7 linked regions of the Homo sapiens genome follow. The protein of the gene in region 5 purifies or fractionates together with the protein of the main gene of each other region. This does not show direct contact. Each region holds a gene or a part of one and is shown on either strand. Other genes may lie near its edges.

Region 1 (3,500 bases), on a different chromosome or scaffold from region 5:
CCTTAAGTCGCTTTTACAGTTTACCTGTTCTGTTTTTTTAATTATCCTGTTCCCATCAATTAAAAATGTTCTTATAATAATCCAAGCTATAATTTACAGGTCAGATTTAAAGTTAATTTTATGTGGATCCTTTGATGCATATGTTGCCCCCAGTTCAGCAAGAAGCTAACAGTCAGTAAGCCAGTTTGTCCAGTTCATTGTAACCTTTGTTCCCTTTGTCATTAAACGCTAGAGCTACTACTGAGCTTTTTCTCACTCTGACCTGACGGAGTAAAGAGGGTGAGGCAGGCCACTGCAGGCCTGGAAATCCGTTTCCTTCTCCAGTGGTGATTCTTGCTCCTCGTGTTATCACCTTAATCCCAATATCCAGGCTAAAAAGTGAGATTATTCTCTACCCCCTCGCTTCTGACATCCAGTCATCCACAAAGTTTCTCATTTTGCCTCAAAAAGAGATCTCAAATGTCTTTTTATACATGGCTCCGTGGTCTAAACCTTCATCAGTCCTTGTCTGGACTTGTGGAGTAGCTTTTATAACTGGGCTTTTCTTACATTCAAACATACCTTATCACCCAAAGGTCACAGTTCCCATTAGGTTTCACTCTTTGCGTTATACATTCTGTTGGTGGGGAGGGGGGTTCTCATTTTTATGATCTCAAGGAAAGTTGGTAGTTGGGAGATGCAGGATAAGGTGAGAATGTAACTACTACTTCTGTTGGTAACCATGCTCTAGAGGTAAGAGGAGGGTGTGCTAGAACAGTTAATGTTTAATAGGATAAGGAGGGGCAGAATATATTTTGCTAGTCATTGCTACCCTCTTAATTATGGCTCAGTAGGTCACACTTTAATTTCTTAGACTTTTTTTTTTTTTTGCCTATCTTACGGGTAATGAGGCTACAACTGTTTGCAACTGCTGAAGTCTTGAAAGCAGAGAGCATGGTGGCTTGTGTTTTTTGATTTTTGCCAAATTTCCTGGTACCTAATTGGCAGCCAGAGAGTCTCTGGGAAAATTAATCTTTGACAACATGAGATTTATTTCATTTTCTAACTTGTTCAACTTGGTTCTGTCTTGCAGGAATGACACCAAGGAAGATGTATTTGTACACCAGGTGAGTGCTTGTGTAGATATTTGCACTTCTGATTCAAGGATTGTAAGAAGAAAAGGTTAGATATGTTCTCAGCTTTTGTTCCTTATAAAAGGTTAAGTCCAACCACCAGTTTATTTACTTACGACAGGAGTAGTAGCATGCTTAAAAATGTATACGTGGAAATGTGTTAGAGTTGACTTAATTATCCTAGACATTTCAAATTGGAATTTTGTCAACAGCTGTGGCTTTCTCAAATGTTGAGTCAAACTCACTGCATTAAATATTTATACCTAATTTCAGATGAACAGATTATTCCATGATTCTAAAGTTGAACAAATAATGTTGCTATAAATACACAGAAACTTTGGCAAGAAGTTTTCAAAGGCTTTTAGGTGTACCTGTAGGGACAAATCTCCATAATCAAGGGTAAATAAGACAGACCTGCAAAACATAGTAATTGAAGTGAGTACTTGAAAAGTAGCATAAAGAGCCTTCTGCTTACTTTAAATCACTTTGAATGGGTATTGGGTTTTTTTTTTTTTTAAACCTTTGGAGAGTTTTGGCTGGCTTGGAAAATGAAAAAATTTCACTAGTTTAAGGTTAAGTGGGGGGAAGTGTGACAAGGTTGGCAGCTGCTCATTAAATAATTTTTAGATTGGCTTCCAGTGATTTGGGAAGAGAAAACTGTTAACATAGGATGAGTACTGATGAGTACTGCATAGTGAACTTTCTCCCTAAGTATCATTTAGGGAAAATGTTTGCACATTCAGGAATTAAGATTATTACTAATGTAAACCACTGCCAAGTGTATGTTAATACTTCAAATTTAGATATGCTGTAGGCTACATTGAATGTACTTATCCTCACAGATACGAAATGAGTAGGAAAAAATATGTTTGTGCTATCAGTTTTCTCACTAAGGCTTTTGAAATATTGTCAACTTGTATTAAAATTAGAGACCATAACTACTTTTTTGTACTATAATCCAGAAATCAAAAGACCTAAAAGTTAATATCCATACTCACATTTAATTAGATACTAGCTTTTATGGCAGCATGTTTCATAGGAAGGGCTGTCATAGGTTGGTGCTTTGTAGCTCACTGAAGTGTCCTACACAGTATTTGATGACAAGGAGGAAGCTATATCAATTTCTAGTACACCCAAACCCAATCAGGTAGTTCAGGGTCAAATGTAATTATGGAATCATTTAAATTCTAAATGTAAATAAATACAGGACTACTTCAGACAAAATGTTGTTTTAAAGTAGATGTTTTATAAAATTGGTATTCTTGTTTGGAAGAACACAGCTCAACTGTTCCTTACTCCCCTTCTGCATGTTCAAAAGAATGTGTAGACTTAGGAACAAGAGACAGCAAAGTTTCTCGGTCTTGTTGCCTGTTGGCAACCCTTAAGGGTTGGGGTTGGGGCAGGGGTGGAGATGTTGATAAAAATAAAGAGTTGGGATTTTAATTATCCATAATTCTGCTATCCCCTATGACTGCAGGTAATTGATAGTTGGCTATATCTGAAAGGTATGAAAACTATGTGACAGTTTAGATGACAGATGAGATCAATTATTTGACTCAACTCACCCAGTTGTACTGATTCACAAGGTGCCACCAATATGCTTTCATTTTTTTGGAAGTGGTTTCAACATGTAGTTGTTTCTTGGGACTTTGGCTGCTCAGGTCTTAGTGGTGTATCAGGGAGACTGCAGTTCTGGGCAGCTTCACTTAATTGGCCTCAGATTCGTTGATTGTCCTGTCTCCTCTGCAATGGAAATGCATGAGTGATCCTGTAATGGATATAGCTGAGATTTGGAGTGAACATGGGATTTGGAGACCCAATACCTGGGTTTAGAAAGTCTCCTTACTAACTGTGTGACCTTGGGCAAGTCACCTAACTTTAAAGCCTGTTACATTATCTGTGTAATGGGATTAACAATACTTTCACATGTCCTGTCTCATAATGAGATTGAATAGATAGTAAGTGAAAGAATGTTGCAAAAAAATTTCATAGAAACGTGAGATGTTACTCTTCCTCCCTTCTCTTAACAGTCTGGAGAAAGTAGAAGCAACAAGTCTCTAATACAAGATTTATTGAATTCTGGGGAGGTGATAACTAACAATTCCATGCAGTCAGATCATATAAAGAATGACATAGTTAATACACATGAATTGCATTTCCACTGATGTATTATCAGATTGGAAGGGATTTTGGTTGACATTTGTAATTGAGTTTGATACGGTAACACAGGGGCAAAGTTGGTTTGGTCAGCTTTGAAGCATGCAAAACCAAACTCGCCTGTCATCTAAACTGACGCAGTGTGGGGCCACCTTCTCCTATTAAGTGCAGTCCTCAGGGGATAGATGGATATCCTCATTTGTTAAAAGTTATATATAATGCTTTTGCAAA
Region 2 (3,500 bases), on a different chromosome or scaffold from region 5:
CTTGTGCATCTTTTGATGGGGAGCAAGAAAGAAGGTGATTTTATGGGCTACCTTATCATTATTCTCCCAAAGGACTTGAATTAGTTGAGATTTGCTCAATGTGGTCAGCACATTCAATCCATGATCAAATCCTTTTTATTTTTCTTGCACAACGTCTGCTAGTTTTCCTTCCACTCCACCTGTGTAGACAGTGGATTCATTCAGCCCCTCAGCCTCTCTGACATAGTAGTGCTCCTGCACCGTCAGGCCTAAGTGTGCTATTGCCACTTCCACCCATCACTCTAGCCGTGCCACTCCTTGCTGTACTCCAGGGTGACTTCCTATTTGGCCCTGGCTGTGGCTCAGAGGTCGAATTCAGAAGTTGGCAATGTCCTCATTGGATTATTAGTCCACTCACCTCTCAGTATTCTCCTAGGCCTTGCTCATCGTCCACAGTACCTTGTCACAGCTCATCAAAAACTGTTTCTAACATTCAAAAAGCATCGAGATCTCACTTCTTCCAGAAAGTATTTTGTGTTGAATAAAAGAAGAATATGTTGGGAGCTGTGGTTCATGCCTATAATCCCAGTAACTCAGGAGGCTGAGGTGGGAGAATCACTTAGCCCAGGAGTTTGAGAGCAGCCTGGACAACATAGCAAGATCCCGCCTCTAAAAAATTAAAAATAAAAGCAGGTTAGCAATTCCTTGCAGCCGCACTCCTTCTGTACACTTTGCCAGATGGTCATTCAGCCAAGTGCACTTTTCGATCTGAGCTTGTTCTGTTGTCTGTACTGACAACTTCCATTTCACTCTGCATTTCAGATCCACTGGCATTTCCAAGTCCCTAGAGAGCATGAATAGTGCCTCATTAGCTGAGGTTGTACCATCGCTTTCAGATGGGTGCTTAGCAAAGGTTTAATGTCAGGGGGATGTTTTGACCTGTGTTGAGAAAGAGCCAGGACTTGGGTAGGATGGACCCCAGCCCGTTCAGTTAGTTATTCACAGAATGTCTGTTGAGCACCTGTGTTAAGTACTGTGCTAGGTGCTGCAAATAACAAGAATCAGACTGAGTACTCCAGGAGTGCCTGATCTTTTTAAGAAAATGAACGAGCACGCTGTTTTGACAGATCCTATGAATGGTGAGCATAGGGTGCTGTGGAAGGACAGAATGGGTAACCACACCTCTCCAGGAGCAGTGTGGAGGGTAGGCTGGAGCAAGAACTGAGGGTGAAGGAATAGTGTTTTGTGCCTACTTTGTGCTAAGCCCTTTTCCATACATATCTTGGTAATTATCACCAGGTGTGGTAGGTGTTCTCTGCATTTTCATTTGAGGAAGAACGGCTGCTAACAGTAGAGCCAGGATTTTTACATGGGGTACCTCTGACTTGAGGGCTTCCAGACTGTTACACCGAAGTGTGTGAGCCCAAGGCTTAGATGAGGAGTTTCCAATCTTGTGGCTTCCCTGGGCCACATTGGAAGAAGAAGAGTTGTCTTGGGCTACACATGAAATACACTGATGAGCTGAAAAAGGAAAAAAAATCTCGTAATGTTTTAAGAAAGGTTACAAATTTGTATTGGGCCACATTTAAAGCTGTCGTGGCTCGTGTGTTGGACAAGCCTAGCTTAGGTTCTCTCTTTGGATCCTAGTCGGATTTCTGTGGCCTCACACACCTGGTGAAGCTAGACCTGAGTAAGAACAAGCTGCAGCAGCTGCCAGCAGACTTTGGCCGTCTGGTCAACCTCCAGCACCTGGATCTCCTCAACAACAAGCTGGTCACCTTGCCTGTCAGCTTTGCTCAGCTCAAGGTAACAATTCATGAACCAGTGTTTCATGGCCAGGGTGGCAGAGAACTCAGGGACTCTGGAGCACGGCCCTGAGAAAGGCTGACAGAAATACCCCCTTGTTGGTCCTGCCTCAGATGGCGCTCCCTATATGTGGAACACAGAGGGGCATTCTTCCTGCTCATTTTGTTTCACCCTGAGGGACTATGTATGTGAACTCGGGCTTAATGAGCCTCTTTGCCCATCGCCCATCTCTTTAGAACCTGAAGTGGTTGGACCTGAAGGATAACCCCCTGGATCCTGTCCTGGCCAAGGTGGCAGGTGACTGCTTGGATGAGAAGCAGTGTAAGCAGTGTGCAAACAAGGTAAGCACCAAGCTCCCTCCCAGTGGCTCCTTATACACTCCCTGGGATTTCTCCTCCTCCTGTTTTTCCCTCCTAGGGCACCTGGAGCTTTGTGTGGAGTTAAGCATTCAGGTCCGAGTGAAATATGTCCACTATGAGCCTGTCAAACAGAGACCTTTGTTTCTGCATTTACTTTATCTTTTTGTTTTTTATTTGTTTTGAGACAGAGTTGCTCTGTTGCCCAGGTTGGAGTGCAAGTGGCACAATCTCGGCCCACTCCAACCTCCGCCTCCCAGGTTCAAGCGATTCTCCTGCCTCAGCCTCCCGAGTAGCTGAGATTACAGACGCCTGCTACCATGCTCAGCTAATTTTTGTATTTTTTAGTGGAGATGGTGTTTCGCCACGTTGGCCAGGCTGGTCTCCAACTCCCGACCTCAAATGATTCGCCCACCTTGGCCTTCCAAAGTGCTGGGATTATAGGCGTGAGCCACCATGCCTGGCCTGCACTTAGTTCGCAAGTCGCAGAACAAGACTGCCTTCTCTACTGCAGTACTTCCTCTCTTAAGGAGCCGGGACCTTGCGTGATGCAACATGACACTGTGTGGACAGTTGTTTTAATAGTACCGGGGGTTAGGGGCTGTGGCCTTTCTGAGGCACAGTCGTAGGAATGTTGATAATAAAAGCGATGATAAAGGTGTTACAGCTGTAAGCAGGCACGTCCTGGGCAGACCTGGTATTTGATTACAGTTGAGTCATCTGACATAGGAGTGAGGAACTGAAAGCAGCATGCAAGACAACTATTGTCTGTGGTCAGTAGCCTGGAAGGTGCCGTACCCTACCTATTAAGAACAGCATTACACCTATCTCTTAATAACTCCAACTATAGTCACTTTTTCCCTCCAGCTTTGGAACAGATTGCTGCTGCTTCAGCTGAGCACCAGATGACTAACTTGGCTATGTTTAAGGTGCATGTTGAACAAAAAAGACTTAACTTTAAATACTAGAATTCATGGGTGAATGATGAGTCTCTGCTGTCTCAAGTAGAGAGTAAGAGAGTAAGATACTTCTTATCATTAGCTCAGGGCTTCTTATATAATCTTGTCATCTGTATCATCTCTTATTACAACAAATCAAGCACAAAGTTAACCAAGTAGCTAAGACAAGAGTTTTCCCTTAGATGAGAACAGTATAAGTGATCAGTGAAATCCTCTTTTGAAAACTAGGTGCTGTAGGAGTGATGTCTGTTCTGCAAGCTGACAGTAGCTACCATTGATTACTCTTTCCTTGTCCTGGATGCTTTCCATGCACCATCTCACAATCCTCAGAGCCCTGAGGAGTCGGCATTACTTTCATTTCTCTGACACAAGAAACCCTCAGCATATACACACCTTTCAT
Region 3 (2,170 bases), on a different chromosome or scaffold from region 5:
GCTACAAGAAGACCAAGGAAGCTGTTTTGCTCCTTAAGAAACTTAAAGCCTGGAATGATATCAAAAAGGTCCGTTCAATGAGCACATTTACAGTTTGGTACTCCTTGTTCACAGTTTGTCACTTTGAATTTCAGAAGATAAGGGCAGTATAGCTAATCCTTAATGTGTGAGAGAACAAGAACCTCAGAGCCCGATTACTTGGGTTTGAATCCTAACTGCTGTTTATGGCTCTGTGTAACCTTGGCAAGTTATTGTGCCCAGTTTAATCATCTGTAAAAAGGAATTAAAACTCTGAAGATCTATTGCAGAGATTCTATCTTAATCAGAATACTAAAACTGCTCACTTTGTAGGTCTATGCCTCTCAGCGAATGAGAGCTGGCAAAGGCAAAATGAGAAACCGTCGCCGTATCCAGCGCAGGGGCCCGTGCATCATCTATAATGAGGATAATGGTATCATCAAGGCCTTCAGAAACATCCCTGGTAATTAAACTGCTTACATATATTGACTAGGTATACTCTGCAAGTCTACTCAGCTTTTGTTATGATGAGATTCCACTTAAGGTCCGTGTTTCTGAAACAAATGATTTTGTGGAAGTTCTGATTTATGGCTGAAAGAGTTGCACCATTGATGGTTGAAACTTCATAATTAATAAGTTCTCAGGTACCTTTTATAGCTCTTAAGCCATAAAGATGATTTGTGTTTCTTTTGTTGGAATACAGGCTCCCTAATTTTTCTTTCCCTTTAAAAGGAATTACTCTGCTTAATGTAAGCAAGCTGAACATTTTGAAGCTTGCTCCTGGTGGGCATGTGGGACGTTTCTGCATTTGGACTGAAAGTGCTTTCCGGAAGTTAGATGAATTGTACGGCACTTGGCGTAAAGCCGCTTCCCTCAAGAGTAACTACAAGTAAGTATCTTTCATATACTAAGCACAGATGTTTATATTGTGGATATTAACATTCAGAATTGGCTTACATGTTTTCTAAATTTATTCCCATTTCCCCTTATGTGCAGCAACAGTATGCCAAAATGAGACTCACCTGGTCTATATTTTTGGTTTTTTGTTTTGTTTTTGAGACAGAGTTGTTCTGTCTCACCCACGCTGGAGTGTAGTGGTGTGATCGTGGCTTACTGCAGCCTCCGCCTCCCGGGTTCAAGCAGTTCTCCTGTCTCAGCCTCCCAAGTACCTGGGACTACAGGCTTGTGCCACCACACCCGGCTAATTGTAGAGTTGGGGTTTTACCATGTTGGCCAGGCTGGTCTGGAACTCCTGACCTTAGGTGATCCACCCGCCTCGGCCTCCCCAAGTGCTGGGATTATAGGGGTGAGCCACCACACCCGGCCTGGTCCATGTTTATGAGAAGTGATAGTGTAGTAGATATTTTGGAGAGCATAGTGGCTAAAAATAAAGCTTCAGTTGAGCTTCCTGTTCTTTGGTTGATTACTTTTACATGTACATGTCAATCTTTTCCCTTTCAGTCTTCCCATGCACAAGATGATTAATACAGATCTTAGCAGAATCTTGAAAAGCCCAGAGATCCAAAGAGCCCTTCGAGCACCACGGTAAAGTGATACTTAGAGTGTAATTCTCGCCCCAACCCTATACTATTGGTTGTTTCAAAAATTTGTATGTGTATAATGTTAAGTAAAATGTTGATACAGTATCTGCTTTTTTATAGCAAGAAGATCCATCGCAGAGTCCTAAAGAAGAACCCACTGAAAAACTTGAGAATCATGTTGAAGCTAAACCCATATGCAAAGACCATGCGCCGGAACACCATTCTTCGCCAGGCCAGGAATGTGAGTGGAGTTTTTGTTTGTTTGTTTGTTTTTGAGTCGGAATCTCGCTCTGTCACCCAGGCTGGAGTGCAATGGCGTGATCTCAGCTCACTGCAACCTCCACCTACCAAGTTCAAGCAGTTCTTCTGTCTCAGCCTCCCAAGTAGCTGGCACTACAGGCGCACGCCACCATGTCCGGCTAATTTTTGTATTTTCAGTAGAGACGGGGTGTCACTATATTGTTAGGCTGGTCTCAAACTCCTGACCTCAGGTGATTCACCTGCCTCGGCCTCCCAAAGTGCTGGGATTACAGGCGTGAGCCACCGTGCCCGGCTGGTTTGTTTTGTTTTTGTTTTTCTCTTCCTGATACATTAAGTTCTTACAGGGATTT
Region 4 (3,500 bases), on a different chromosome or scaffold from region 5:
AGACAAAGTACCTGTACTTTGCAGGATTATTATGCATACATGGAAATGACCTTCCTATCTCTCCAAAATAAGCTTGAAATTAAAATATGAAAAATTTCACAAAACTTGGGGCAGACAAAATTAAAAAAAAAAAGCTCTAAGTTAAAATTGGTCATCAGGCCAAAGAGCAGGCATATCCTACTAACTTTCGACCAGGAAGATTTGTTCCTAGCTGAAAACATTTTAGCCTCTCTCAGATGAAGATAGTTCTTTCTTCTCCTGTCTATACAGAAAAATTACACATCTCTCTCAATAACACTATTTATCAAACTTCAGTGCAACAAAACAAAAACAAAAACAAGTCCTATTCTTTATACTGCCTAACCTGATGTTTATGTAAGGAAAAAAATATGGAAAGCATGCATTCTTCTATAAAGTACTAATGTTTGACAGGGTTTGCTACATCTTTAACATTTAGTGTTTCCAACTTATCTTCCCTGAACTCTGCATCCAAATATAATATTCCTACCTGCCAAGATATAAAAAAGGCACAGATCATACAACTTTTTTTGCTAATGAAAATGACAAATGTCACATCACACACATTTCAGGGTCCACTAAAATACTGGAAAAGTGGACCAAAACATAAACTGACACAGGACATGAAATGACATAGCATTTCATGAAGACTTCTATACGAGATTGAAAACAGAAGTCTAATATGATTACCATAAATGCTATATATTAAGAAAAACTGAGAATGTACTGGTGAATGATCACCCAATGCAGGAAAATGGTCCAAATTAACAAAGAATATCACTGCTCAGTACTTTAGAAAATAAAACTAAAATCTGCCCTGAAGTGCTAAGTAGTTTTAAAAGCAATGTTTCAAATTTTAAGGTATCTTTTTGTGCAAATCTGAAAATTGTTGCTTATGGCCAATACCAAAAAATAAAAAATTCTTAGCATAATTTGTGTTCATTTCATGCCCTGTGCCATCTTGCCTACTATTTGTCTTTGGCCTAACAAAGTTTTCTAATATGGAATAAGAATTACGGAAATGGTATAGGAAATATAACTTCAGAATTATGCAGTTTAGGGTACTCCATTCACGAGTGGTTGCTGACCATCCACGCTGTCTGGCTTCTCTTTCTTCTGGTTACGATCTTTACCCGTGCGCAGCCGACTACCTTCACTGGAGGTATTCTGTAATGTTTTAGTGTGGACACTCCTTTCATTATTGCAGTCAACTCTGATCTAAAACAAGTTATAGTTGTTATATACACAGACCATATCCTACTGTAATCTGTAATTGGCCTGACAAGAAATTTAAACCTGAAGTGTAAATTCCACATGTTAAAAAGAGAAATGGAGATGAGAACAGAAGAAGTGCAAGAAATTAATGTAAGGTAGGATTCTTTATTTGGTTTATGATTTTAAAACACTCTTCTTCTTTAACTGGAACACACTGGTCATCTCACTGCATCCAAAGTTAGAGAAAAACTCACAATCCTATCATGTCTTCTTCTAAGTAGAATAAAACAGTGAGAAACAAACAGGTAAAATGAATTACTATTACTGATTACCAGAAGACATACATGCCTCTAACACTAGAGTTAAAATAAAATTAGTTATTCTCCAAAGATTGTGAAGCCCAGGAAAAGAGAAACAAAATGTTTTCCTATTCTGGCTTTACCCTCAAATAACTCACTAACTAGACTTTAATTTACATCTTTATATCTATCACAGGTATGATCAAGTTTCTCTATACTGAGAGCTCCCATAGTCATACAGTAGAAAAACACGAGCTTTGGTTTCTACTGGCTTGTATTTCACTAAGAAAATTCAGATGATCCTACAACCTGAACTCTGTCTGAAGAATGGAACAGTATAAAGAAAACTGCATATAATAATTTGTGGAAGGACTGGAATCCTAGGAGAGTATAAAGATCAATGTAATTTAAAAAATAGTGTTCTAAGAGCTATAAAATATTTTAAGTGCCAATGCTGAATACAGCACTGCTAATTCCAGAGGTACAAATGAAAGTTAACAGTGACAAATGGAACTAAAACAACTACAAATATTGATCTACTTCAAGCACAAATGCTAAAAACATCCCCAAATGGTTGTAATTTCAAAGTATGTTTAAGTAGTGGGTATGTGCATGTGTTTTAAATGTCTCGTTACCAAGGATTCAGTACTTTGATTTGTATCTTTTTTTTTTTTTTTCCCAGACAGTCTCGCTCTGTCGCCCAGGCTGGAGTGCAGTGGCGCGATCTTGGCTCACTGCAAGCTCCGCCTCCCAGGTTCACGCCATCCTCCTGCCTCAGCCTCCTGAGTAGCTGGGACTATAGGTGCCCGCCACCATGCCCGGCTAATTTTTTGTATTTTTAGTAGAGATGGGGTTTCACCATGTTAGCCAGGATGGTCTCGATCTCCTGACCTTGTGATCCACCCGCCTTGGCCTCCCAAAGTGCTGGGATTACAGGCGTGCGCCACCGTGCCTGGCCCTTTTTTTTTTTTTTTGAGATGGTGTTTTGCTCTTGTTGCTCAGGCTGGAGTGCAATGGCAAGATCTTGGCTCACTGCAACCTCTGCCACCTGGGTTCAAGCGATTCTCCTGCCTCAGCCTCCCGAGTAGCTGAGATTACAGGTGCCCGCCAACACGTCTGGCTAATTTTTTGTATTTTTAGTAGAAATGGGGTTTCACCATGTTAGCCAGGCTGGTCTCGAACTCCTGACCTCAGGTGATCTGACCACCTTGGCCTCCCAAAGCGCTGGGACTACAGGCGTGAGCACCGCGCCTGGCCAGATTTGTATCTATTTTCATACTTAATAGAGAAAACATCACCTTTTAAATTCAGTATTCCATTTCATTTAGAAATATAAATGTGCATCCTTTTAACCAATGCAGTTAGACTGCCAAGTTCATCAAACATATCAGTTTAAGTGGAAAATTACAAAACGGGTACTTAAATATCTTATAGCTTTGTAAAAGACAGGTACATACAGTAATTTACCAATCTATCTATCCCTTGGACATGCTGGTCCTTAAGAACCCACCAATAGTTAACACTTACTTTGAGCTGCTATGAATTCCAAGAAATATTCCATCATAAACTTTGTCTTAAAAAGTATCTCTCACTAATCTTGGGTGATGGTCCCAAATGAATCCATAGTCAGGAAGGAACCCTAACTACTTAATAATTAAAAGTTACAGAAAAAGTAGACGACAACATAGATTCAGAGAATCAGACACTAAGGTTTGACTATCATTTGGACATATGCTAGCTATGTGACTGTGGGCAAAGGACTGAAGCTACAGTGCACTCACCTATAAAGTGGAATAATAAAACTACCTCAGTGGGTTGCTGTAAGATTAAATGAGATAAAACATACACAAAGCACTTAGCAAAGGTGCCTGGATGTGCTCAGGAGATAATTTTAAAATTATTTAACAATTGGTTTAGCACTGGTGACAGCCAATTGAGAAGAGATCCTCGGACTAGGTCCTGGCTGTA
Region 5 (3,500 bases):
AAACTGAAAAAAAGGGTGGTTATGTTTTCAAACAAGAGCCCACAAACACATTGCAGCATCAAAACAAACATTGTCTTAATTTGTGTGAAGTACTGCTGTGTGTTTAAATCAAGTTTGCAAAATATCTTTCATGAGAAGTAATTGGAAGAGAATTTTGAGGCTGGACGTGGTGGGTCATGCCTGTAATCCCAGCACTTTGGGAGACTGAGGCAGGTGGATCACTTGAGGTCAGGAGTTCGAGACCAGCCTGGCCAACATGGTGAAACCCTGTCTCTACTAAAAGTACAGAAATTAGCCGGGCATGGTGGCAGGTGCCTGTAATCCCAGCTACTCGGGAGACTGAGGCAGGAGAATTTCTTGAACCCAGGAGGTGGAGGTTGCATTGAGCCAAGATCACACCACTGCACTCTAACCTGGGGACAGAGTGAGACTGTGTCTCTTAAAAAAAAAAAAAAATTTCAGTGCATACACACACAATCTCTTTTTTTTGTTGTTGTTTATAAAAAACAACAAAAAAGGATAAGAAGGGGATGACAGGATGAATTATCAAGATAAGACCAGGCCTCTTAAACCATGACCATAGAAAGTGTTCAAGGTTCAAGTGACATATTACAGTCAATGTCAGGTTTCATGAATTTGAGAGCTCACACTTTTCATTTCTAGGAATTTACAGTACTGCTGACACTTGGAAATCAGCAATGGGGAGCTGAGTGAACTGGTATTAAAAAGGTCAAACACACAGCTGCTGCTAAAGCTTTGGAGGGAACAAAATTTCCTAAGCCCATAGTCAGCCCTTTTGGTAGCGAAGGAAGGAATCCAGGTCTTATGCATGGGCCAAACAGGTACCTTTCAAAAGTGTGTCTAGAGGTACCATGTAGTATGTATATGAATGGTTTCTTAACTTGTTGATTTTGAAAGCACAGATTCTACACTACCAGTGACAAATGCTTATTTTTTAGGAATCCTTAACCTCATTGTAAAGCAGTGGTTTCCAATCTATGATGCCTTAACGCCTGACAATCTGGAAAGGCGGTCATAGGAAGGATGGCGGGTGACCAGATAATTTCAAAGATTTCCGAAGTTTAATGAAAATATATTTTTGATAAGAGTGTATAGATTAGCAAGAATATAAGTTTAATTTAGAGTCACATCAAGTCAGTGTGGTAATATTGATTGTAATTTTGTTGGTCAGAAGTGCTTATTGCCAGTTGTATGTCTCTTAGTTATTAAAAAGAATGAGAAAAATGTAAATATTACTTAAATACAAGCCAGCAGGTAGTATCTCCTCAGACAAGGAGCCCATTCAGGGAGCATACTAATCAAGAAGGCATGGCTGGTGAAGGGTTGGGGATCAGTGACCTGGAGGCTGTGTCATTAATGGCTGTTTTAGCAGAGACCCCCTCACATGCATGAAGTCATCCCAGGTCTTCGTATGTAGGAAGGAATCTGGGAAGTTACCAGTCACATCTTTCTTGTTACTTTTGATTTCTTTGCAGTATACTTTCTTCATGTTTATTCTCTATTGCAGACAAATTCTGTGGATCAGAGCTGCTCTTAAAATGATTCAGACTGTACTTAAAATGCAATTATATGAATTTTGTAAAAAATATAATTCTAATGCAAGGAAGAGAGAGATCTGTAATTCATGTGGCCCTCTGTGCAAACCCCAAAGATATTCTTATAGATTTGATTCATGCATTAAATTTAGTTGAACCAGTTATAGTACAGAATCAGGTCTTTTTTATTTCTCTCTATATACATCCTAAAGAGGCATTTTAAAGTGGATTTTTATGTGCATTTAGATTTTGCCATTTCTAGTGTTCTGTTTTTGATATGAAAGTGTTGTTTTTAAATATTGTGCACTGACACTAATCTTTCCAGGCTGGTTTTCTTTTTAAATGGTTTTTAAAGGTTTATGGATTGGATGAACTGAAAGAAAAAAAAATTGGAAAATGAATAGCATGTATTTTCTGAAGTTGATAATTTTGAGATAACTTGTTGTGTATGAAAATGGAACTCATTTTCGTAGCAAGTATGACCACAGGTCAAATTCATTAGAAATGTCAAGAATGGAAATACCTGAATATTTTGTGGGCCTTGTGTGACTTCTGTGAAGAGAATTGGGTTGCCACCTCCTCACTGATTTTTCACCTTTAAGTTGCACATCATGTTGTATTGTAACTCTTTGAGTGTGCTTTGTGTTTTTTGAACTCCTCTGGGGCAGGAATTGTGTTTCTTTTTTTTTTTTAAGACAGAGTTTTGCTCTTGTTTCCTCATCTGGAGTACAGTGACGCAATCTCGACTCACTGCAACCTCTGCTTCCTGGGTTCAGGCGATTCTCCTGCCTCAGCCTCCTGAGTAGATGGGATTACAGGCATGCGCCACCATGCCTGGCTAATTTTTTGTATTTTTAGTAGAAACGGGGTTTCACCGTGTTAGCCAGGCTGGTCTCGAACTCCTGACCTCAGGTGATCCACCCGCCTCGGCCTTCCAAAGTGCTGGGATTACAGGTGTGAGCCACCCTCACTGCAAGGTCCGCCTCCCAGGTTCACACCATTCTTCTGCCTCAGCCTCCTGAGTAGCTGGGACTGCAGGCACCCGCCACCATGCCTGGCTAATTTTTTGTATTTTTTAGTAGAGATAGGGTTTCACCATGTTAGCCAAGATGGTCTCGATACCCTGACCTTGTGATCCTCCTGCCTTGGCCTCCCAAAGTGCTGGGATTACAGGCGTGAGCCACCACGCCTGGCCAGGAATTGTGTTTCTTAAGCTTAGCACAGTGCTTTGCATCCAGTTAGTAATGTAATAAATGCATCGTTCAATACTGTGTACGGACATACTTCTGAGTGCAAGCCAATAATCCTGTAAATCAGTACAACCAAGGTTATATTGATTAAGTATTCTCAAACAGTAAAACAATTTGGACATTTACATGGGATTTTTTAATCGTGAAATTTGATGTGTTTTGGAACTTATTTCTGACAGCTGTACCATATAGCTTTCACTGATAATGTCTTGGGTTAAATTGTGGCTCCTCTGGTAACCCTCAGAGTAGATTTTGTGCTGTCGACTGTGTATAAATATCTAGAAATCACAGCATATTCTTGGATTTCCTTGTCTGATGCCTAGCAGTGAGCCACCCAGGTCCTTTTATGTAAAGTATCATGAATCCAATTAGCAGAAAGCATGCTATTACATTTTATTTTAGTGAGTATCATTCTCATACCAGAAAAAAACAGTTCTTTGTCGATTCTTTCTTGCAGAAAGCATAACCCCTACTGTAGAACTAAATGCACTGTGCATGAAACTTGGAAAAAAACCAATGTATAAGCCTGTTGACCCTTACTCTCGGATGCAGTCCACCTATAACTACAACATGAGAGGAGGTGCTTATCCCCCGAGGTATGTGTTTTTTTTTTTTTTTTTTTGTAAAATACAGGAGAAAACGTGTCTGATCTTTTACATAAACCAGTACCTCTAGATTGTGGAGGGAGTAATGA
Region 6 (3,500 bases), on a different chromosome or scaffold from region 5:
GAGAGATTCAAAGCATGAGAGACATCCAACCTGCTGTCTCTGACTTGAAGACAGCCATGAGCCAGGGAATGCAGGTGGCCTTTGGAAAGGGAGAATTCTTAGCCCACAGCAAATAAGGAAAGGAACTCCTGCAACTGCACGGAACTGAATTCTTGAACAATCTGAATGAGTCTAGAAACATGTTCTCTCACTAGAGCCTCTAAAAAAGAACAGCCCTACCGACACAGATTCCAGCCTGGTGAGACTCTAAGCAGAGGAACCAGATGAAGCATCCTGTAACTGGATTTCTGACCTAAAGAACTGTGAGATAATAAATGTGTGTTGTTTTAAGCCATTCAGTTTGTGGTGATTCACAGTAGCAACAGAAAATTATACACTGAGGGCCAGGCACAGTGGCTCATGCCTGTAATCCCAGAACTTTGGGAGGCTGAGGCAGGCGGATAACCTGAGGTCAGGAGTTCAAGACCAGCCTGGCCAACATGGTGAAACCCCATCTCACTAAAAATACAAAAATTAGCCAGGCACGGTGGCGGGCACCTGTAATCCAGCTACTTAGGAGGCTGAGGCAGGAGAATCACTTGAGCCCAGGAGGCGGAGGTTGCAGTGAGCCAAGATCGCACCACTGCACTCCAGCCTGGGCAACAGAGTGAGACTCTGTCTCAAGAAAAAAAAAAAGAAAGAAAATTATACATTGAGTTAAGCAAAGATTTCTTAGATATAAAAAAGCATTATCCATAAATGAAAAAATACATAAACTATATCAAAATTTAAAACTCTGTTCTTCAAAAGACAATGTTAAAAAAAAGATAAAGAACTTGTATCCGGAATGATAAAAAAACCCAGAATATATCCCAAACTTAATAAGACAACAAAAATCTTCCCCTCAAAATGAACAAAGGATTTGAACAGACACTTCATTAAAGACATACAAATCACCATGGTGTAAGCACATGCAAAGATGGTCAACAAGATTAAGCATCGTTAGTCATTAGGGAAATGAAAATTTAAACCACAGTTAAGTACTACTACGTACCTATTAGAATGGATCAAAAAATAAAATTGATAATAATAAATGTAGACAAGGATGCAAAGCAACTGGAGTGCTCATACTTCGCTGGGGGAATGCAAAATGGCACAGCCACTTTAGGAAACAATGCAGCAGTTTCTTATGAAGTTAAATATACATTAATCATATGACCCAGAAATCTCATTCCTAAGTATTTACCCAAGGGAAATTAAAATTTATTTTCACATAAAAACCTTTTTTGCCAGGTGCAGTGGCTCATGCCTGTAATCCCAGCATTCTGGGAGGCCAAAGCAGGCAGATCACTTTAGCCCAGGAGTTCAAGATCAGCCTGGCCAACATGGCGAACACCCATCTCTACTATAAATACAAAAATTAGCTGGGTGAGGTGGCACTCGCCTATAATCCCAGCTACTTGGGAGGCTGAGGTGGGAGGATGGCTTGAGCCCGGGAGGCAGAGGTAGCAGTGAGCCAAGGTGGCGCCACTGCACTCCAGCCTGGGCAAAAGAGCAAGACCCTGTTTCAAAAAAACAAAACACAACAATCTTTTCATTTTTTGTTTTTGAGTCAGGGTCTTGCTCTGTCACCCAGGCTGGAGTGCAGTGGCACCATCTCGGCTCACTGCAATCTCCGCCTCCTGGGCTCAAACCATCCTCCCGCCTCAACCTCCCAAGTAGCTGGGACTACAGGCGTGCACCACCCACACCCAGCTAATTTTTGTATTTTCTGTAGAGATGGGGTTTCACCATGTTGCCCAGCTGGTCTCGAACTCCTGAGCTCAAGCAATCCACCTGCATCAGCCTCCCAAAGTGCTGGGATTACAGGCATGAGTCATTGTGCCCAGCCCAAAAACCTTTGTGAATGTTTATAGCAGCTTTATTCGTAATCATCAAAAACTAGAAACAACCAAATGTTCTTCAACTGGTAAGCAGATAAACGACAAACTTGAAACATCCATATAATGAAATCCTAGTCAGAAAAAAAAAGGAATAAACTAATGATACATGCAACACATGGATGAATCACAAATGGATTATGGTAAATGAAAGAAGTCAGACTGAAAGGCTACATGCTGTATGATTCAATTTATATGACATTCTGAAAAGGGTAAAACTATAGGGTCAGAAAATAAATCAGTGGTTGCCAGAGGCTGTAGCTGGAGGAAAAGGCTGACTAAAGGGACACAAGTCAACTTGAGGTAGTGATGGAATTGTAAAACATCTTTTTTTTGTTTGTTTTGAGACAGAGTCTCACTCTGTCACCCAGGCTGGAATGCAGTGGTATGATCACAGCTCTGCAGCCTCAACCTTCTGGGCTCAAGTGATCCTCCCACCTCAGTTTCCCAAGTACTTGGGACTACAGGTGTACACCACCATGCCTGGCTTATTTTTTCATTTTTTGTAGAGACAGGGTCTCACTATGTAGCCCAACCTAGTCTCAAACTCCTGGACTCAGGCAATCCACCCACCTCAGCTTCCCAAAGTGCTGGGATTACAGGTGTGAGCTAAGGCACCCCGCCTAGTCTATGTGTTGAGTGTGATAGTGGTTACATGACTGTATACATGTGTCAAAACTCTTATAATTATGCACTAAAATGGTAAACATTACTATGTGTAAATTGTATCTTAACAAATGACTCTAAAAAAAAAGAAACCACAGGGTGGGAAACCTTGGAAATGTAATGAGAACAAAAAAATTTAAACCAAAAAAATGAGAGGAACCAGCTGGACAGATGCCCATAAAAGCTCTAGCTATGGGGGAATGCCTTTAGTTTTAAAAGTATAACAATGGGGCTGGGCACAGTGGCTCACGCCTATAATCCCAGCACTTTGGGAGGCCGAGGTGGGCAGATCACCTGAGATCGGGAGTTCGAGACCAGCCTGGCCAACATGGTGAAACCCCGTCTCTAATAAAAATACAAAAATTAGCTGGGCGTGGTGGCACGCACCTGTAATCCCAGCTACTCGGGAAGCTGAAGTAGGAGAATTGCTTGAACCCAGGAGGCGGAGGTCACAGTGAGCCAAGATTGCTCTACAGCACTCCAGCCTGGGCAACAGAGGGAAAGTCTGTCTCAAAAATATATAAATACATAAATTAATTAATTAATTAATTAAATAATGGGCTGAGCAGGGTGGCTCGCACCTATAATCCCAGCACTTTGGGAGGTCAAGGTAAGAGGATCACTTGAGGCCAGGAGTTTGCGACTGGCCTGTGCTACATAATGAGACCCCCGTCTCTACAAAAAATTAAAAACGAAGAATTAGCTGGGCATGTGACGCAAGCCTGTAGTCCTGGCTACTTAGGAGCCTGAGGCAAGAAGATGGCTTGAGCCCAAGAGTTCGAGGCTGCAGTGAGCTATGATCCCACCACTGCACTCTAGCCTGAGACAGCAAGATCTTGTCTCTTGAAGAAAAAAAAAAAAAAAAATATACACACACACACACTATATAAAAATATATAAGATATAAAATATATA
Region 7 (2,865 bases), on a different chromosome or scaffold from region 5:
CAGAGTGTTGGGGCGCAAGGAGCTCAGGTATGGAGTGGGGTAGGCACGGGGGCCAGGAGCCCTGGAGGCAGGGAAAGGCCATGATGTTGGACCTCTGGGAAGAGGATATTGCTGTGCTAAAGGTTTGGGATGGGGGCCTGAGCCTTTTGATTTATGTAGCCGAAGCCCGAAAGGTGGGTAGTGAGCCTAAAACAGAAGGGGGCGGGGACAAAGAGGGAGATGGCAAGATCAGTAATAGTATCTCTGGGGCAGGTCGCTACTAAACTGGAGAACAAAACTTCGGCGATATGTGGCCAAGAAGCTGAAAGAACAAGCAAAGGCACTGGACATCAGGTGAGGAGAGAACGCAGCGAGGCAGGTGTGGACTGGGTGTCCAGGGGAAAAGTCTGGGAAAATAACCCAACTCTTGGGACTGTTTTGCCAGCCTCAGCTCTGGAGAGGAAGATGAAGGTGATGAGGAGGACTCAACAGCTGGAACCACAAAGCAGCCCTCTAAGGAGGAGGAGGAAGAGGAGGAGGAGGAACAACTGAACCAGACCTTGGCAGAAATGAAGGCCCAGGAGGTGGCGGAATTGAAGAGGTGAAAGGAGCTGGGGTAGAGCTTGGAGTTCCCCAACGCAGGGACTGTGTGAAGATGGGAGAAGAAAATGCAAGGCATGGATAGAAACTTTGGAGCTGGGCCGGTTTTACTCCCTCAATCCACCCCCTCAGGAAGAAAAAGAAGCTGTTGCGTGAGCAGAGAAAGCAGCGGGAGCGTGTGGAGCTGAAGATGGATCTGCCTGGGGTTTCCATTGCAGACGAGGGGGAGACTGGCATGTTCTCCTTGAGCACCATCCGGGGTCACCAGGTGAGGCGGCATTGGGGGTGCAGGTTTAGGAGACAGAAGGATCTGTTTGGGTGTTTGGAGGTGGGGGGTGTTGAATGTCTTTTTAGGTTGCCGAACGATAGGCTGTGGTTGCTGTCTTCACCACAGGGTGCCTTGGTGAGTATAAGGCCACAAAGAAACATAAACCAAAAAGGATGAGTTAGGTAGATAGATGAGTGTGATAGATTTATTTTTTTTTTTTTTGAGACGGAGTCTTGCTCTGTTGCCCAGGCTGGAGTGCAGTGGCACGATCTCGGCCCACTGCAAGCTCCACCTTCCAGGTTCACACCATTCTCCTGCCTCAGCCTCCCGAGTAGCTGGGACAACAGGCGCCTACCACCACGCCTGGCTAATTTTTTGTATTTTTAGTAGAGACGGGGTTTCACCGTGTTAGCCAGGATGGTCTCGACCTCCTGACCTCGTGATCTGCCCACCTCGGCCTCCCAAAGTGCTGGGATTACAGGCGTGAGCCACCGCGCCCGGCTGATAGATTTATTCTTGAAGAACTAGAACATCAGAAAAGAACTTAGGTTATAGTAGATGCTGCCAGGTTACTTGAGTTTCAAGCACAGATGAATAGAGGATCTCCCTCAGAGGGGAGCAGCATTCTTTAGTTCATTGAGACCAAGTGAGCACTCGCATTAGGGTACTTCCACTGAATACTGAAGAACATGTTTTTCCTGACAAAATCAGGGTCACAAACAAAATGAACTTTTGTGGCTTATGTGTGGGAGTGTCATAATCAGGTCATCTTTGTTGTACAGGAGGGCAGTAGAGCATGGTGGCCCTAGAGCAGACACAGGCTCAGGTTTCCTTCCCAGCTCTACCACCTGGAGCTTTGTGAAGTGACTGAGCTGACTACCACTTATCCTTGCTGCCTCAGTTTCCTCATCTGTAAAACAATAATAGAACCTACCTACTAGAGTTTTTGGTGAGGAATAAAAAAAGATAGGTGTAATCCCTCATATGTGATAAACACTCAAGAAATAGTAGTTGGAGTTTTTCCTTTGAGACAAGATCTTGTTTTGTCACCCAGGCTGGAGTTCAGTGGTGCCATCATGACTCACTGCAGCCTCAAACTCCTGGCATCAAGCAATCCTCCTGCCTCAGCCTCCCAAAATGCTGAGATTACAGGTGTGAGCCACCATACCCAGCCTAGTATCTTTACCATGAGGAAAATAAAAGGTTCTGACAATTGGTTTAAGTGGAACAGTTTTGTTGGATGTATGTTGGCTGGGCCCCTTTTATTCAGTGGAAACAAACTGTGTAGACGGTATTCTCAGGAGATGATTGAGATGCTGTCTGAGAATAATTTTTAAAGGAAAACCAGTGTTGTAGAATATGTTAAGATTTGGTGCTATGTGGGCTGTAGGTACCTTCCTTAAGACCTATTTGTGATACCACTGAGACAAGACAGCTGAGTGGGATAGATCAGTAACCCAGCCTAGAACGGGATGTTGTAAACAGGCCATTCACTACCCTGGATCTGAGCTTTCCCATCTGTGAAAGGATAATGGATTTGCCAGTGTTCTTTCTAGTGTTGCTGAGCATAGACTGAGGTGAGGGACACAGAAAAAAAAACAGTATATTTCCTTTTAAATAGTTTACCTTTGTTTCTGTTACACTTCAGTTATTAGAGGAAGTAACACAAGGGGATATGAGTGCAGCAGACACATTTCTGTCCGATCTGCCAAGGGATGATATCTATGTGTCAGATGTTGAGGACGACGGTGATGACACATCTCTGGATAGTGACCTGGATCCAGAGGAGCTGGCAGGAGTCAGGGGACATCAGGGTCTAAGGGACCAAAAGCGGTAAGGGGCACGTGTGCACCAAAGGGAATGCTGCCACTCTGAGGAAGTGTTAGGGTGGGTACTACCAGAGCCTGAGTAGGGCAGCAAGGGCTCCAGGCAATCTGGGTCTCTGAGCCCCCTACTTTCCTTTGGGTCTACAGTATGCGACTTACTGAAGTGCAAGATGATAAAGAGGAGGAGGAGGA

What was found.
Region 1: the proteins of STAU1 (region 5) and YBX1 purify together in Homo sapiens (affinity purification with mass spectrometry; 3 studies listed by BioGRID and IntAct, with this or other methods). This does not show direct contact.
Region 2: the proteins of STAU1 (region 5) and LRRC59 purify together in Homo sapiens (affinity purification with mass spectrometry; 3 studies listed by BioGRID). This does not show direct contact.
Region 3: the proteins of STAU1 (region 5) and RPL4 purify together in Homo sapiens (affinity purification with mass spectrometry; 3 studies listed by BioGRID and IntAct, with this or other methods). This does not show direct contact.
Region 4: the proteins of STAU1 (region 5) and FMR1 purify together in Homo sapiens (affinity purification with western blotting; 3 studies listed by BioGRID and IntAct, with this or other methods). This does not show direct contact.
Region 6: the proteins of STAU1 (region 5) and ZNF512 purify together in Homo sapiens (affinity purification with mass spectrometry; 3 studies listed by BioGRID and IntAct, with this or other methods). This does not show direct contact.
Region 7: the proteins of STAU1 (region 5) and FTSJ3 purify together in Homo sapiens (affinity purification with mass spectrometry; 3 studies listed by BioGRID and IntAct, with this or other methods). This does not show direct contact.

What each region holds. Positions count from the first base shown.
Region 1 is NC_000001.11:42,692,418-42,695,917, forward strand, and holds part of YBX1 (Y-box-binding protein 1), read left to right. Parts: intron 1-1,072; coding exon 1,073-1,106; intron 1,107-3,500. UniProt on the Homo sapiens protein: DNA- and RNA-binding protein involved in various processes, such as translational repression, RNA stabilization, mRNA splicing, DNA repair and transcription regulation.
Region 2 is NC_000017.11:50,391,024-50,394,523, reverse strand, and holds part of LRRC59 (leucine-rich repeat-containing protein 59), read left to right. Parts: intron 1-1,626; coding exon 1,627-1,785; intron 1,786-2,021; coding exon 2,022-2,126; intron 2,127-3,500.
Region 3 is NC_000015.10:66,499,686-66,501,855, reverse strand, and holds part of RPL4 (large ribosomal subunit protein uL4), read left to right. Parts: coding exon 1-68; intron 69-351; coding exon 352-481; intron 482-537; exon of another isoform or gene 538-604; intron 605-750; coding exon 751-907; intron 908-1,479; coding exon 1,480-1,563; intron 1,564-1,679; coding exon 1,680-1,800; intron 1,801-2,170. UniProt on the Homo sapiens protein: Component of the large ribosomal subunit. The ribosome is a large ribonucleoprotein complex responsible for the synthesis of proteins in the cell.
Region 4 is NC_000023.11:147,946,419-147,949,918, reverse strand, and holds part of FMR1 (fragile X messenger ribonucleoprotein 1), read right to left. Parts: intron 1,237-3,500; coding exon 1,075-1,236; 3' UTR 1-1,074.
Region 5 is NC_000020.11:49,153,835-49,157,334, reverse strand, and holds part of STAU1 (double-stranded RNA-binding protein Staufen homolog 1), read left to right. Parts: intron 1-3,263; coding exon 3,264-3,402; intron 3,403-3,500. UniProt on the Homo sapiens protein: Binds double-stranded RNA (regardless of the sequence) and tubulin.
Region 6 is NC_000002.12:27,603,542-27,607,041, reverse strand, and holds part of ZNF512 (zinc finger protein 512), read right to left. Parts: intron 1-3,500. UniProt on the Homo sapiens protein: May be involved in transcriptional regulation.
Region 7 is NC_000017.11:63,821,799-63,824,663, reverse strand, and holds part of FTSJ3 (pre-rRNA 2'-O-ribose RNA methyltransferase FTSJ3), read left to right. Parts: coding exon 1-27; intron 28-252; coding exon 253-333; intron 334-424; coding exon 425-580; intron 581-711; coding exon 712-847; intron 848-1,901; coding exon of another isoform or gene 1,902-1,991; exon of another isoform or gene 1,992-2,075; intron 2,076-2,495; coding exon 2,496-2,680; intron 2,681-2,820; coding exon 2,821-2,865.